Linked DNA regions of Homo sapiens: region 1 is linked to region 2. A link means that fine-mapping ties the variant in region 2 to the expression of a gene that starts in the linked region. Tissue or cell type: pancreas. Region 2 holds a variant in brackets; the other region holds the start of a gene. All regions are shown on one strand. Distances are between the middles of the regions.

The links. PIP is the estimated chance that this variant, and not a neighbour inherited with it, causes the effect.
Region 1: ARHGAP33 starts here. The variant in region 2 is fine-mapped to the expression of ARHGAP33 in pancreas (GTEx, PIP 0.98).

What each region holds. Positions count from the first base shown.
Region 1 is chr19:35,770,874-35,778,873 of GRCh38, reverse strand. ARHGAP33 (Rho GTPase activating protein 33) reads right to left here and starts at 3,310. Exons shown (of 21, transcript NM_001366178.1): 1 at 3,210-3,310; 2 at 1,132-1,229; 3 at 966-1,050; 4 at 514-594; 5 at 273-410. The coding sequence starts at 3,215. It overlaps PROSER3 (proline and serine rich 3), which reads right to left. Exons shown (of 11, transcript NM_001367856.1): 11 at 7,708-8,000. RefSeq lists enhancers at 1-851, 852-1,737, 3,759-3,818 and a silencer at 3,049-3,528.
Region 2 is chr19:35,826,019-35,834,018 of GRCh38, reverse strand. NPHS1 (NPHS1 adhesion molecule, nephrin) reads left to right here. Exons shown (of 29, transcript NM_004646.4): 24 at 2,257-2,376; 25 at 2,519-2,543; 26 at 2,648-2,723; 27 at 2,873-2,966; 28 at 3,063-3,175; 29 at 7,374-8,000. The coding sequence ends at 7,505. Among named protein-coding and RNA genes, the nearest start is that of PRODH2, 17 kb to the right of the region's middle. The variant G/A (reference allele first, on the strand shown) is at 3,950.

The sequences.
Region 1 (8,000 bases), 55 kb after region 2:
GCAGGCTGGGCCAAGCTCTTGAGTACCCTGGTTGGCATGACCATGGTGACCCTCCCATGGGACCCCCTGGAACTCCCCATGATCCTAAAACTTAGCAAAGCTAAATGTAGCAGAAGCCTACTACGTTTCTAAGGCTTCTCCATTCATTCAGATTGGTTGGGACTTGGGCCATACCAGTATTTAAATATTTCTCTATCCCGCTGCCTTGATGATTTCACACTGTGGATGAGGACACACTCATGAGGCAGGGGCTGAGACAACAAGCAGGTTACCTGGGCAGCCCTGGCACCCTCGGGGGGCGGGGGAAGCTCCGGAAGGCAGGAGAACCTCCGGTCAAATATGCACCGGTGGAGGTGGGCATCCAGGGAACGAAAGTCATCGTAACTCCGGAGAACCGGCCAGGAACGGCCCTGTGGGAGCAGAGGGACAGAAGGGAGCAGGGGCCCCATGACACCGAGCTGAGGACTACAGTGGCCATTCTCTCAGGCTAGATGAGAGGCGGGATGGCCTCACCTGACAGGTCACCTGCACCCCGAACACCAGCTCATTCTCTCCAGAGAGGCTGGGCCCTTCACGGTCTGGAGACAGCAGGAGCTGCAGAGGGAAAGCAAGGCCCAGGTGGACTTTTGTCCCAGTCCTGACCTCCTGGGGATGGCACTATCTAGGGACGGGTTTGTGACTCCCTTCTGGACCTCCCCGAGGACAGGGCCTGGTGATGTCCTGGTCCCTGACATAGAGCAGATACCTAACAAAAGTTGTTGTTGAATGAATAAAAGAACAAATGGATGAATGAATGAGCAGCTCTCCCCATCTGCTGTGGCTCCTGCAACTTTTGCTACTGACTGCTCAGACGCGTGCAGCAGCCAGTCACAGGGATAAGTTTCAGAAGCAAAGCACCTGATATCGTTGCAAGGTTGGGTAGGATATTGTCTTCCCTCCTGGGTGCAAATGCAAAGCCCCCATACCTGAATGTGGCCAAAGTCAACGTTCTCGTAGTGGAAATGGGCGCAGTCAGCCAGCCGCGGGAAGGGGCCTCGAGGAGCTGAGAGCCTGGGAGACAGGGGATGCGTCACCAGCAGCTCCTTGAGTCTCCCCAGCTCCTAGCTGAGCCCTTTCCTCCCTCACCCTCACCTCTTCCCAGGCTTCCCCTTCACACTGGGCCCCCCAGCAGTGGGTAGAGGCTGCACCGAGCCCTCCCCTGGGCCATCCAGGCTGTCAGTGCTGCGTGCCTGTAGAGCAGAAAGAATCAGAGGCCCCCAGAGATGGGAGCAAAGAGACAACGAGAGCATTGTTATCTGGCAGCGCGGGTCCAGAGCCCCGGGCGCTCCACACACCGCCCTGAGCATGAAGCAGGATGGCAGGTCGGGGGAGGTGAGGGCTGGGCTGAGGACAGGACTGCTTCTTCGTGTGTGGTCTGGGGTGGGGGACTGGAGAAGCAGGGGCCAGACGTGAGGCGGGGCAACAGGATGGAGAGCATGCTGGTCCCATCTCTCCCTGCTGAAAACCCTTCCGTAGCCCCTGCAGAGTACAGTGATCTCCTACCACTGTCTAGACAATCACAACTCCCATCTCATCAGCCTTCCTGCTTCCAGCCTCTCCCCTCCTGCCAGCTTTTCCGCAATAGCCTGGATCGTTTTCAGAAAACACAAATCTGGCTCTATTTCTCCATAGATCCTGGGCCTTCAATGACTCCCTGTTGTCTTCAAGACGAAGTCTGAATTCTCTGGTCTGATAATCGAGACTTCCCTGAGCTGATTTCTGTTTACCTCTCCAGTCCCATCTCTTCCCATTGCCCCCACTCTCAGAGCTCTTGAACTTCTAAGAGTCCAAAAAAAGCACCCTCTTCTCATTTCCTTCTAGGCCTTTGCAAAGGCTGTTCCCTCAGCCTGGAACACTCGCCCCACCTTTCCCTGGGTACATTCATCCTCACTCCCACCCCTCAGGTCCCAACTCACATGTGCCCTCCTCCAGGAAGTTCTCCCTGACCCTTCAGGCTGCACCTGGCATCTCCTCTGGACTCTCTCCATCCCCTGAGGTTCCCCCATCCCAGGTTCCATGCCTTGACCAGAGCTTCTCCCTTCACAGCTCTGATCACTCTGAGATGGCACTGGTGGTGACAAGTTCATCTCTCTCATTGGACTATGACCGGCCTCCCAGAAGGAGGGCCCCAGACTGAGCTCCCCAGCATAGAGCTGGGCATTGAGTTGGTGTTCAGACATGATTGTTCCTGATTCTTTTCTGGGTCCCCAGTGCCAGCCCAGTCGCGCGCAGCAGGGACTGGGTAAAATCTGATGAATAAATTAACCAGCTGCCAGACAGATTCACTGGGCTGTAGCGTCTCCCTGCTCCATGTCCCTGCAACCCCCAGTCACCCTCAGGGTCTCACCCTCAGGGTCTGTCCCCCTCCAGCCCATAAGGTTCCCCAAGGCAGGATGGGAGCTGACTCTCTCTGTGCCTGGAGCGTGGGGCCTGCACAGAGGCGGTCTCAGTGAATGTCTGCTAAGTGAGGGAATGAATGGATGAATGAGCGGGAGCAGCATGGTGGGAGAGGGAAATGGTGGGGGAGGGGGATGAGGACAAGGAGATGGAGCAGACCCGAGGATCAAGGGAGGTACAGTGCTGGCCTGTTGGGGTGGAGTAAGGAAGGAGTGGCTGGAGAGACGAGGCAAAGGCTCAGACTGATGCGGGGCGGGGGGGATTGAGAGGAACTGGGATAGGGTGAAAATGAGGGAGAAGGAGAAGAAAAGGGTCAGGCTGGGGATGGAGCGGGTGGGGGGTGGGGCTCGGGAATGAGAAAGGGGCTGTGGGGAGGAGGAGGGGGCTCCGCCGGGGAGGGCTGAGGGCTGGCAGAAGGATGCCGAGGAAGGTGCTGGGATGGGAGCTGGGGAAGGACCCAGGAGCCTCAGGAGGCCCCTGCAGGGGCCACTTGGGTGGCGCGGGTCCCTTCCTGGACTAGCCCCGCCTCCTCCCAGCCCAGGCCCTAGGTCCCTGTCACCCCATCCAGGGCGTGGAAGACGGGGATGCGCGCTTAGGGGGCGGGGTCGAGGTACGGGCTGGGACCCGGGATGGGGCCGCAGGACGGGAGGGACCACGGCTGAAGCACAGGCCGCGGGATCGGGCGGGGCCGGGGGCGGGGCGCGCGGGGCGGGGCTGCGCACGGACAGACTGACATCCGGACGGACAGGCTGACGGCCGCGTGGGACCCTTACCACCATGGTCGCGTAGCCTCCTCAGGCCCCGGCCGCGCTCGACCCCTCGCTCGCCGTTCTCGTCGCCGCTGCCGCCGCCATGGCGACACAAAGGGGAGGGCGCGAGCCGCGCGCGGGCGGCTGCAGACCCCGCCCCTAACGGCTGCCCGTGGCTCCGGCGCGCGCCCCACGGGGGCGGGGGGCAGCGGGAACGCGGCGCTGCTTCTCATTGGCTCCGCCCTTGGCCTTAGGCCGATGCCCCGCCCACCCGGAGGCTTCTCATTGGTTTCACCTTGGGCTCCGCCCCGGCTCTGTGTCCTCGGTCCCGCCCCTCGAAGTTTGACAGCGCCACGCCCATGACTGCTTTTCATTGGCTGTCATCGCCCTCCTGAGACAAGCCCCCAGGTTCTTTATGCTTTGCTTCCGACACTTCCAACACCAAGCAATGGACCCTACCTTTCGTCCACTCCCAGTGTCCATTCTTCTGACTTTTTTATTTTTATTTCTTTAAGAGACAGGGTCTCACTCTGTCGCCCAGGCTGGAGCGCAGTCCTGCAATCGTGGCTTACTGCAGCCTCAACCTCCTGGGCTCAAGCGATACCTCCCATGTAGCTGGGACTACAGGCGTGCGCTACCACGCCTGGCTAATTTTTTTTAGACATGGGGGTCTCACTATGTTACCCAGGATGGTCTTGATCTCTGGGGCTCAAGAGATACTCCCTCCTCAGCCTCCTTTCAAAGCGCTGGGATGACAGGCGTGAGCCACCACGCCAGCCAGCCCCTGATAGTCTTAATTGGATTCTCCCACGGCCTCAGAGCAGTGCCCAGTTCCTTAAGCAGCTTTTCAAAGTCCCAGTCCCAAGTCTCACCTTTTCAGTCCTGATCCCGACCCCGCTCACATAATGCCGAGGACGCTCCGCCCATGGACGTTTCTCGTTGCCTCATATACCTTGCCTAGGACGTAACCCGAGGCTTTCTGCGATTTGGCCTCCCCTGCCCACTGGACATTTTCTTGTTTCCCCTTCTACTGCTTATTACGGGCCAATCTCCAGCCTTGATTTTTTTTTTCTAGGAAAATGCTTAGGGGGAAATGCCAGATCATGCTTATGCCCCCCATAAAGCCATTCCCAATGGAGCCTGCTAATACTGAGCATGCCCAGATAACACTGTAATAACGCCCTTCACAGGAGGGTCTCTCCTTAGTCATGCCCTCAACAAATTCTCATCTCAGAGGGTCTTGGTCTGTTCATTCATTCATTCATTCATTCATTCACTCAAACTCTAATCAATTTGTACATACATCAACAACCAAACCAGGAGAAAATATACCCTGCCCACATTGGAGCTCAAAAGCTACTGGGAGAAGACAATGAACAAAATTAACATTAAACAAAATATAGAATATTAGGCCAGGCGTGGTGGCTCACGCCTGTAATCCCAACACTTTGGGAGGCCGAGGCGGGCAGATCACTTGAGGTCAGGAGTTCGACACCAGCATGGCCAGCATGGAGAAACCCCGTCTCTACTAAAAATACAAAAATTAGCCAGGTGTGGCGGCGGGCGTGCCTGTAATCCCAGCTACCTGGGAGGCTGAGGCAAGACAATGGGTTGAACCCAGGTGGCAGAGTTTGCTGTGAGCCGAGATCGCGCCACTGCACTCCAGCTTAGGTGTTGAAGTGAGACTCTGTCTCAAAAAAAAAAAAAAAAAAAAAAAAAAAAAGCTGGGGACAGTGGCTCACGCCTGTAACCCCAGCACTTTGGGAGGCCGAGGCGGGAGGATCACAAGGTCAGGAGTTCGAGACCAGCCTGGCCAATATGCTGAAACCCCGTCTCTACTAAAAATACAAATATTAAAATTAGCCAGGTGTGGTGGCGTGTGCCTGTAATCCCAGCTACTCAGGAGCCTGAGACAGGAGAATTGCTTGAACCCAGGAGGCGGAGGTTGCAGTCAGCCGAGATTTTGCCACTGCACTCCAGCCTGGGAGACAGAGCAAGACTCTGTCTGAAAAAAAAAAAAAATATTAGAAGGTGATTCATTCTATGGAGAATAATTAAGCAAGGGCTGGTGAAAGGGAGTGCTGAGGGAGAGGTGAATGTGCAGTTACTTATGTACTAAATTTGCTGACCTCACTCTCATCACAGGGATTTCCCACACGATATTCCTTCTGTCTAGTGTTTCCCCATCAACCCCTGCAGTGATTTTTTTTTTTATTTTTTAATTTTTCTGGGTACATAACAGGTATATTTAGGTATATATATTGAGGGGGCACATGAGATGTTTTGATACAGGCATGCAATGTGTAATAATCACATCATGGAGAATGGGGTCCTGCAGTGATTTTAAAACAGCTGCAAATTCTCTGACACTCTTCTTATCAAGACGCGGACTCTATGATTGCTTTCTATGAATCTGGGTGGGACTAGGATAGCTTCAACCAATAGAAAACAGTGGAAGTGACACGGTGATTTCTAAGGCTATGTGATGAAAGGCAATGCAGCTTCTTGACCAATGTTCTCGTCCACTGGAATGAGCTGTAGAACCATGGTGCATCATATGCGAAGTGTGACTATGCTGAAGCAGACATGCTTTGAGGAAGCCCAGGCCAATGGAGCTATGTATAGGCATTAGTCAATAGTCCCAGTCAGACTGGGAGAAGACCACGGAAGAAGTTCTGGAGGATTCTACTCCACAGCCATCAAGTCTATCAAGTCACCTTTGAGTCTTTCCAGGTGAATCCCCAGACATCATGGAGGAGACAAAAATTGTCCCCATATGAGCCCTGTCCAAACCTCTGACTCTCAGAATCCATGAGCATAATAAAATAATTGTTTTATGCCACTAAGTTTTGGGAGCGGTTATCCAACTAGAGTAATTAGGACAGCCCTTTGTTAACTAGATAATTTCTACCTGTCTCAGCTTAAGTGTAACTTCCTCAGGAATGCTTCTAGACCCCACCCGTGACCCAGCTAGATCAGGTTCTGCTACTATAGTATCTTTTATTTCTCCTTATATCTAAACAGCTATTTTTCTTGTCAATTACATTTTTTTGTTAGTTTGTTTGTTTTTGAGATGGAGTCTCACTCTGTTGCCCAGGCTGAAGTGCAGTGGCACCATCTCAACTCACTGCAGCCTCCGCCTCCCATGTTCAAGCAATTCTCCTGCCTCAGCCTCCTGAGCACCTGGGACTACAGGCACCCGCCACCAGGCCCAGCTAATTTTTAGTGGAGACAGAGTTTCACTATATTGCCCAGGCTGGTCTCTAACTCGTGACCTCAAGTGATCTGCTCGCCTTGGCCTCCCAAAGTGCTGAGATTACAGGCCTGTGCCACTGTGCCCACTCTGATTTCATTTAAATGTATGGTTTGCTTAGAAAGGTTAGAAACAGGCCGGGTGCGGTGCCTCACACCTGTAATCCCAGCACTTTGGGAGGCCGGGGCAGGTGGATCATGAGGTCAGGAGTTCGAGACCAGCCAGACCAACATGGTGAAACCCTGTCTCTACTAAAAACACACACACACACACAAATTAGCCAGGTGAGGTGGCATGCACCTATAATCTCAACTACTCGGAAAGCTGAGGAAGGAGAATCACTTGAACCTGGAAGGCAGAGGTTACAGTGAGCCGAGGTTGCACCACTACACTCCAGCCTGGGTGACAGAGCAAGACTCCATCTCAAAAAAAAAAAAAAAAAAAAAGAAAGAAAGAAAGGTTGAAAACAAATATTATATTTACCATGTGACATACAGAAGTTACTAGAAATCCATCTTATCCCTCCATTTTGTAAATGCAGATATCAAAACAACCCCAATCATATATTCTCCATCATTTTATTATGAAAAGTTTCTTTTCTGAGACGGAGTCTCGCTCTGTCACCCAGGCTGGAGTGCAGTGGCGCAATCTCGGCTCACTGCAAGCTCTGCCTCCCAGGTTCAAGTGATTCTCCTGCCTCAGCCTTCCGAGTAGCTGGGGCTACAGGCGCCCGCCACCACGCCCGGCTAATTTTTTGTATTTTTAGTAGAGACGGGGTTTCACCGTGTTAGCCAGGATGGTCTCGATCTCCTGACCTCGTGATCCGCCCGCCTTGGCCTCCCAAAGTGCTGGGATTACAGGCATGAGTCACCGCGCCCGGCCATGAAAAGTTTCTAAATTACAGCAAAGTTGAAAAATTTTACAGTGGACACCCGCATATCCGCCACTTAGATCCTACCATGAACACTTTGCTGTATTTGCTTTATCTCACATCTACCTATTACACTATTTATCCATCAATCCAACTCATCTCTGGATGCATTTCAAAATAAATTGTCGACATTGGTTTATTGTTCCCTAAATATTTCAGTGTACATACTTTTTTTTTTCTTTTCTTTTTTTTAAAGACAGGGTCTAGCTCTGTAGCCCAGGCTGGAGTGCAGTGGCATGATCTTAGTTCACTACAATACAGCCTTGAACTCCTGGGCTCAAGTAAACCTCCTGCCTCAGCGCCCCTCCCCGCCCCTAGTAATGGGACTGCAAATCGTGTGCCACCACATCTGGCTATTTATTTACTTATTTATTTTTGTAGAGACAGGTCTTGCTGTGTTGCCCAGGGTAGTCTCAAACTCCTGGCCTCAAGTGATCCTCCCGCCTTGGCCTCCCAAAGAAGTCAGATTACAGGCGTATCTTTAACTGGCGTTCAATATTTTCTTTTGAGGTAAACTTTACATACAATGAAATTCACACACTTCACTAAGTTTCATAAGTGCATACACCTGTGTAACCCAAACCCCTCCCCAGCATGGCAACTAGTTTTTTTTTTTAATGTAGCCTCTAAA
Region 2 (8,000 bases):
ACGAAAAAGAATGGCTTGGCTGGGCACAGTGGCTCATGCCTATAATCCCGGAACTTTGGGAGGCTGAGGCAGGTAGATCACTTGAGCCCAGACGTTGGAGACAAACCTGGGCAACATGGTGAAACCCCATCTCTATAAAACAAAAACAAAAAAAATTAGCCAGGCATGGCAGTGCATGCCTGCAGTCCCAGCTACTCAGGAGGCTGATGCGGGAGGATTGATTGAGCCCAGGAGGTTGAGCCTTCAATGAGCCGAGCTCACGCCACTGCACTGCAGCCTGGGCAACAGAGTTGAGACCCTGTCTCAAGAAAAAAAAGAAAAAGTCTTGGTATATGAAATAAAAAATTCCAAGTGTGGCCACTTTCAGGTGCTCAAAAATCTCACCAGCGATCTGTTTCTCACCCTCTCTCAACTTTGCCTTCATCTGTGGTGGCTTCTTTCTGAGTTTCTTCAATCAGAGGGGCAGAGAAGCCCTCCTCCACCTCCATCTTCTTGACAGCTAGTAGAATTGTCCTAAATGTTTTGTTAAAAACACACGTTGGGTCAAATGCCTGTGTCTAAACAATCACTGTGGAGAGAGGAATGGAGACTCTTATTTTCCAGGCCGGGCCATGTGCCCACTGTGGAGTCCTGCCTGAACCCAAGACTGAGATTGGGGAGTGGCTGTTCTCCCCAGGGGAAAAAAGTGCTATTAGTAGAAGACAGGGGAGATTGCCCGCCCAACAGATGCCTACTTAGAGGGGTTCAGCCTTGTCCTCAGGGATATAGCAGCCAAGTCAGCCTGATATTGGCTGGGATGGAAGTTGGTGGAAAGAAGTCATTTGAGGCTGGGCACGGTGGCTCGCGCCTATAATGCCAGCACTTTGGGACGCCAAGGTGGGCAGACCACTTGAAGCCAGGAGTTCAAGAACAGCCTGTCCAACATGGCGAAACTCCGTCTCTATTAAAAATACAAAAAAAAAAAAAATTAGCCGGGTGTGGTGGCATGCGCCTGTAATCCCAGCTACTTGGGAGGCTGAGGGAGAAGAATCGCTTGAACCCTGCAGGTGGAGGTTGCAGTGAGCCAAGATCATGCCACTGCACTCCAGCCTGGGTGAAAGAGTGAGACTCTTTTTTTTTTTTTTTTTTTTTTGAGACAGGGTCTCATTCTGTCACCCAGGCTGGAGTGCAGTAGCGTGATCTCGGCTCACTGCAACCTCTGCCTCCCCAGTTCAAGTGATTCCCCTGCCTCAGCCTCCCAAGTAACTGGGACTACAGGTGCCTGCCACCACACCCAGCTAATTTTTTGTATTTTAGTAGAGACAGGGTTTTACCATATCGGCCAGGCTGGTTTTGAACTCCTGACCTTGTGATCCAACCCCTCAGCCTCCCAGAGTGCTGGGATTATAGGCGTGAGCCACCGTGCCCAGCCAACTCCGTCTTAATTAAAAAACAAAATAAAATAAAGAAGTCCTTGAGATGGGATTTTTTTTTCAGAGGCAGGGTCTTGCTCTGCTGCCCAGGCTGGAGTGCAGTGGTGCTATCATAGCTCACTGGAGCCTTGACTTACCAGGTTCAAGCAATCCTCTTGCTTCAGTGTCCCGAGTAGCTGGGACTATAGACATGCACCACCATGCTGCTAAATTTTTAATTTTTTTTGTAAAGAATCAGCCTCACTATGTTGCCTAGGCTGGTCTTGAGCTCCTAGGCTCAAGCGATTCTCCCACCTTGACCTCCCAACATGCTGGGATTACAGGCATGTGCTGCAGCGCCTGACCTTGAGATAGAATTTGAAAGGCAAACAGAAGTTTGCTTGAGAAGAAAGGACATTTGAGGACAGACACTTAACTATTCCAAAGCTCTGAGGTGTGAATTTGCTTCAGTGATTCTGGAAACAGCTGGTGGTTGATTTGTGTGGCTGGACAGTCCAGTACCAGGGTCTAAGTTTGGTGGGCATGGCTGGAGGCGTGGGAAGAGGCTGGACCACAGAAAGTCTTCAGTGCCCAGCTAACGAGCTGAAGCTCCCTCCTGAGTCCAGAGTTCCGTTCTGAGTTTGCAGAGTTCAAGCAAACGGAGGAAGTTTTGCTAATGGCTTGACTTAAGAAAGAAGCCACCTGCCCTTGGGTGGGCAGAAAGGGTGGGCACAGAGACCTCTGCCCATCTGTTTCTCTGACCCTGGGGGAGGGACTTGGTCAGGGCTACACTTTCTCGGGGAGACCCACCCCTGGCCTACAGCCTGTTGTCTGGGATTCACTGAGGGGTATCTTCCACCCCTAGGACCCTCGGGGCTGCCCCTGCTGCCTGTGCTGTTCGCTCTTGGGGGGCTTCTGCTCCTCTCCAATGCCTCCTGTGTCGGGGGGGTCCTCTGGCAGCGGAGACTCAGGCGTCTTGCTGAGGGTGAGGAGAGACCCTTCCCTGCCAGGGTGGAGACCCGAGGGTGATAGGGAACCCTGTGGTTGCTGCATACTGAAGGTCTTCCTGGGGCCGGGGTGGGGGGCTTGCATAGGGTCACTGAGCCCTTTATTCCTGTTTCCTTCAGGCATCTCAGAGAAGACAGAGGCAGGGTAAGTGGGGATATTTTTCTGTAAAGAAGGCTCTGAGGGAGGTTTGGGGGAGACTGGTGGCGGGGGGCAGCACTCAACTTCCCCCCACACCTTCATCCTGGAAGGTCGGAAGAGGACCGAGTCAGGAACGAATATGAGGAGAGCCAGTGGACAGGAGAGCGGGACACTCAGAGCTCCACGGTAAGTGGGGGTGGCCCTGGTGACCCCACAATCAGGGCACCGACGGCGACTGAAGCCCTGCCGTTAGCATCAGGTTGATCATTGCCCTTCCGGGCACAGTGGGGTCAGAGGATGGAAAGGGCTTTGTTTGTTTTGCGTGTGGGGAACAGGTCAGCACAACAGAGGCAGAGCCGTATTACCGCTCCCTGAGGGACTTCAGCCCCCAGCTGCCCCCGACGCAGGAGGAGGTGTCTTATTCCCGAGGTGAGTTAGGACCATGTCAGGATTCCCTCACTCAGAGGTACCCCCGACGCCTGGACTGGGTGCCTTGATCGTGTCTCCCTTCCACTCCAACTCCAGGTTTCACAGGTGAAGATGAGGATATGGCCTTCCCTGGGCACTTGTATGATGAGGTAGAAAGAACGTACCCCCCGTCTGGAGCCTGGGGACCCCTCTACGATGAAGTGCAGATGGTGAGAAGCTTTGCATCAGCAACCATCCTTCCTGGCTAGTGCTGGGAGCCTACCTCCTATTGCTTGTATTAGTTAGGGCCAGCTAGCTGCTGTAACAAAGAGGCCTGACCATGATCCAGTGGCTTAAAGACAGTCGGCTGGGCATGATGGTCCATGCCTGTAATCCCAACACTTTGGGAGGCCAAGGCAGGAGGATCGCTTGAGCCCATAAGTTTGAGACGAGCCTGGGCAATATAGTGACTTGTCTCTACAAAACATTTTTTAAAATGAGCCAGGCATGGAGGTGTGCACCTGTAGTCTCAGCTACTCAGGAGGCTGAGCCAGGAGGATCCCTTGAGCTCAGGAGTTGGAGGCTGCGGTGAGCCATGATGGTGCCACTGCACTCCAGCTTGGGCAACAGAGCAAGACCCTGTCTCTGAAAAAAAGAAGGCAGTCTATTTCTTTTTCAGTCAGACGTGAGTGGCCCTGCTCAAGTCAACCGAGTCTACATGAATGAGCCAGTTCACTGGGGGTTCAACCCATGGGAAAAGGTGAAAGAATGTGGAGGAGGCACAACCCTGCCTTGTGGCCCAGGCCCAGAAATGGTGCACACCACTCTGCTCTCACTCCCCTGGTGGGAAGAGAGTCACATGGTCACATCTGACGGCAAAGGAGGCTGTGAAATGTGGTCTAGCTTAGCAGTGATGTGCCTTGCTGCAATTCTGCTACTGTGGAAGGAAGTAGACATGAATTTTTAAAGATAATTAGCCATATCTACTCCACTGGTTAAAGAGA[G/A]AGAAAGAGAGAATTTGGGGGCCCATTCAACTGAAAAATCAAGGCATACAATTGTCATCAGGCCCAGCTGGGCCCAGAATTTCTTCCCTAAAAATGTTTTTATGGCTAGGCATGGTCACGGCTCATATCTCTAATCTCAGCAGGCTGAGGTAGGTGGATTGCTTGAGCCCAGGTATTGGAGACCAGCCTGGGCAACACAATAATACCCCATCTTTAAAAAAAAAAAAGTTAAGCCGAGCATGGTGGCTCACACCAGTAATCCCAGCACTCTGAGAGGCTGAGGTGGGTGGATTACCTGAGGTCAAGAGTTCGAGACCAGCCTGGCCAACATGGTGAAACCCCATTTCTACAAAAAATGCAAAAATTATCTGGATGTGGTGGCACACACTTGTAATCCCGGCTACTTGGGAGGCTGATGCAGGAGAATCGCTTGAACCCAGGAGGCAGAGGTTGCAGTGAGCCGAGATCATGCCACTGCACTCCAGCCTGGGCAACAGAGCAAGACTCTGTCTCAAAAAAAAAAAAAGTTTAAAAAATTAACTGGGCATGGTGGTGCATGCCTGTGGTCTCAGCTACTCAGGAGGCTGAGGTAGGAGGAATGCCTGAGCCAGGGAAGTTGAGGCTGCCATGAGCCCTGATTGTGCCACTGCATTCCAGCCTGAGAGACTGTTTCAAAAAAGAAAGGGAAAAAATATTCCCAGAAAATCTAGATTTGTATCCTACGAGATTAGAAATCTTCAAAGAAAGAGTATACCTGTTTTCCAGTGGCCCCAAATGCCCAATGCTGACACTTAATTGGTCTAGCTTGGGTCACATCCTCATCACTGAACACATCCCTGAGTCAGGGGATGGAATATGCTAACAGGAGAGGCCTGGGCCAGTTCACCATGGGATCAGGGAGTAGGGGCCAGCCCCACTCAGGTCACTGGGCTGAGAGTAGGAGAGGGACAGAGAGCTCACAGGGAAATGAGGATGGTGGCTGTACAGGCAAAAACAACAGACAGGCACTTTGACCACCAGCCAATCCCCACCCATTGCTGCACAGTTAGGGAGATGGGACAGAACCCCTGATTTCCTGTGTGGCCTTGGCTGATGCTCTGGCACCTCCTGGGCCAAGGATTTCCTTCTGTCTCTGTGAACGACCTCCGATACCGGGACTGTTGTCAGATCCTAGCTCCTCACCAGCATGGCGCAAAGCGCTGTCCATGGTGCTGGACCATATGCACTCTCTAAAGCGTAGATGGAGGCTGCACGCTTTTTCCGAACAGGGCCGGATAGTAGTAAATGCTTTGGGCTGTGTGGGACATACGGTCTTCCTCAAACTCTACACAAACTCTGCCACCGTAAAGTAAAAGCAGCCATAGACGATGCATAAATGAATGAGTGTGGCTATGTTCCTACAAAACTTAATTTTTGGACACTGTAATTTGAACTTCATGTAATTTTTCTATGTCACAAATGTTATCTTTTTTCATTTTTTCCCAACAATTAAAAAATGAAAAACCAGGCCGGGCACGGTGGCTCATGCCTATAATCCCAGCATTTTGGGAGGCCAAGGCGGGCGGATCACAAGGTCAGAAGTTTGAGACCAGCCTGACCAACATGGTGAAACCCCGTCTCTACTAAAAATACAAAAAGTTAGCCGGGTGTGGTGGCTGGCGCCTGTAGTCCCACCTACTCGGGAGGCTAGGCAGGAGAATCGCTTAAACCCGGGAGGCGGAGGTTGCAGTGAGCCAAGATTGCGCCACTGCACTCCAGCCTGGGCAACAAACCAAGACTCCGTCTCAAAAAAAAAGAAAAAGAAAAAGAAAAAAATAAAAACCATTCTTAGCTCTTGGGCAGTATAAAAAAGCAGGTGGCAGGCCATATTTGGAGCATGGGCCAATCTGCTCTAAAGTTTGCTGAACTAAAATAATCATTTTCTCCCAGCCCTAGAACAAAATACATCCCCAGTTAGGGCTACCATTCATGTTCTTTTTGTTGTTGTTGTTTGTTTGGTTTTGCTTTGTTTTGTTTTTCTATTATGATTAGGGAACTGTTTTGGAAATTCATAGGACAATATAATCATAACTTACATTCCACAGTTGCCATACCTGATAACATGGACTTTTAAAGTTTTCATTTTTAAAAATTTTATTTATTTATTTATTTTTGAGATGGAGGCTTGCTCTGTAACCCAGGCTGGAGTGCAGTAGCACAATCTCAGCTCACTGCAACCTCCACCTCCCAGGTTCAAGCGATTCTCCTGCCTCAGCCTCCCAAGTAGCTGGGATTACAGGCATGCACCATCATGCCCGGCTAATTTTTGTATTTTTAGTAGAGACAGGGTTTTGCCCATTGCCCAGGCTGGTCTCGAATCCTGATCTCAAGTGATCCACCTGCCTTGGCCTCCCAAAATGCTAGGATTACAGGCATGAGTCACCATGCTTGGCCTAAAGGTTTTATATTTCTGACATTTACATTATTTTTCTAACATGAAATCATTGGGTATCTTGGGCTTGCTTCAAAATAATCCAGTTAGTCGGGGAGGGGAACAAGATAGAAATACAGAGAAATCAATTGACCAAGGGTTGCTACTGGTTTTTTCTTTTTTCTTTTTTTCTTTTTTTGAGATAGTCTCAGTCTGTCACCCAGGCGGGAGTGCAGTGGCATGATCATGGCTTACTGCAGCCTTGACCTCCGGGGCTCAAGCGATCCTCTTACCTCAGCCTCCTGAGTATCTAGGACTATAGGCGCTCACCACCACACCTAGCTAATTTCTTTAAAAATATTTTTTATAGGCTCGGTGCAGTGGCTCATAATCCCAGTGACTTATAATCCCAGCACTTTGGGAGGCTGAGACGGGTGGATCGATTGAACTCAGGAGTTCAAGACCAGCCTGGGCCACAATGGAAACCTCGTCTTTAAAAAAAAAAAAAATTCAAAAGTTAGCTGGGTGTGGTGATGCATGCCTGTAGTCCCAGCTACTTGGGAGGCTGAAGTGGGAGGATGGATTGAGCCCAGAAGGTGGAGGTTGCAGGGAGCTAAGATCGTGCCATTGCACTCCAGCCTGGGTGACAGAGCCAGACCCTGTCTAAGAAAAATAAAATTATTTTTTGTAGATACAGGATCTCACTATGTTGCCCAGGCTGGTCTCGAACTCCTGGTCTCAAGCAATCCTCCTGCTTTGGCATCCCAAAGTGCTGGAATTATAGGCATGAGCTACCGTGCCCAGCCTGATATTGTTGAAGTTAGGTGATAAGCACATGGGGTTCATCATAAGCATTCATTATAATCACACTCCTTTTTTGTATATGTTGGGATTTTAGTAAAAGCTAAAACACTTTTTTCTGGGAAGTTAAGCAGGGGCATGTATCCCCCAGATCTTCAATGAAGACCTACAGGGCATCTCTCCATGGTTCTAACTCCACTTTTTGCCTGTCAGGGACCCTGGGACCTCCACTGGCCTGAAGACACATATCAGGATCCAAGAGGAATCTATGACCAGGTGGCCGGAGACTTGGACACTCTGGAACCCGATTCTCTGCCCTTCGAGCTGAGGGGACATCTGGTGTAAGAGCCCTCTCAACCCCATTGTCCTGCACCTGCAGGAATTTACACTCCACTGGTCTCTCTCATTACAGCCTGGGCCGAGCTGGTTAGGTGAGCTCCATAAAACCCAAAGGGACTTGGTGTCAGGAGAGGACATGGAGGGGGCTGAGTGACAGAGATGGTTCAGCTGGTACCAGAGTAGAAACAAGGTGCATCCTGGGGTTGGCTTTAGAAACTAAACTTCTCCAAAAGGACAGGGCAGATTGTAAACGTCGTCTCAAAAATGAAATGCTGCCGGGTGCGGTGACTCACGCCTATAATCCCAGCACTTTGGGAGGCTGAGGCGGGTGGATCACCTGAGGTCAGGAGTTCGAGACCAGCCTGGCCAACATGGTAAAACTCCATTTCTACTAAAAATATAAAAAATTAGCCAGGAGTAGTGGCGCATGCCTGTAGTCCCAGCTACTTGGGAGGCTGATGCATGAGAATTGCTTGAACCCAGGAGGCGGAGGTTGCAGTG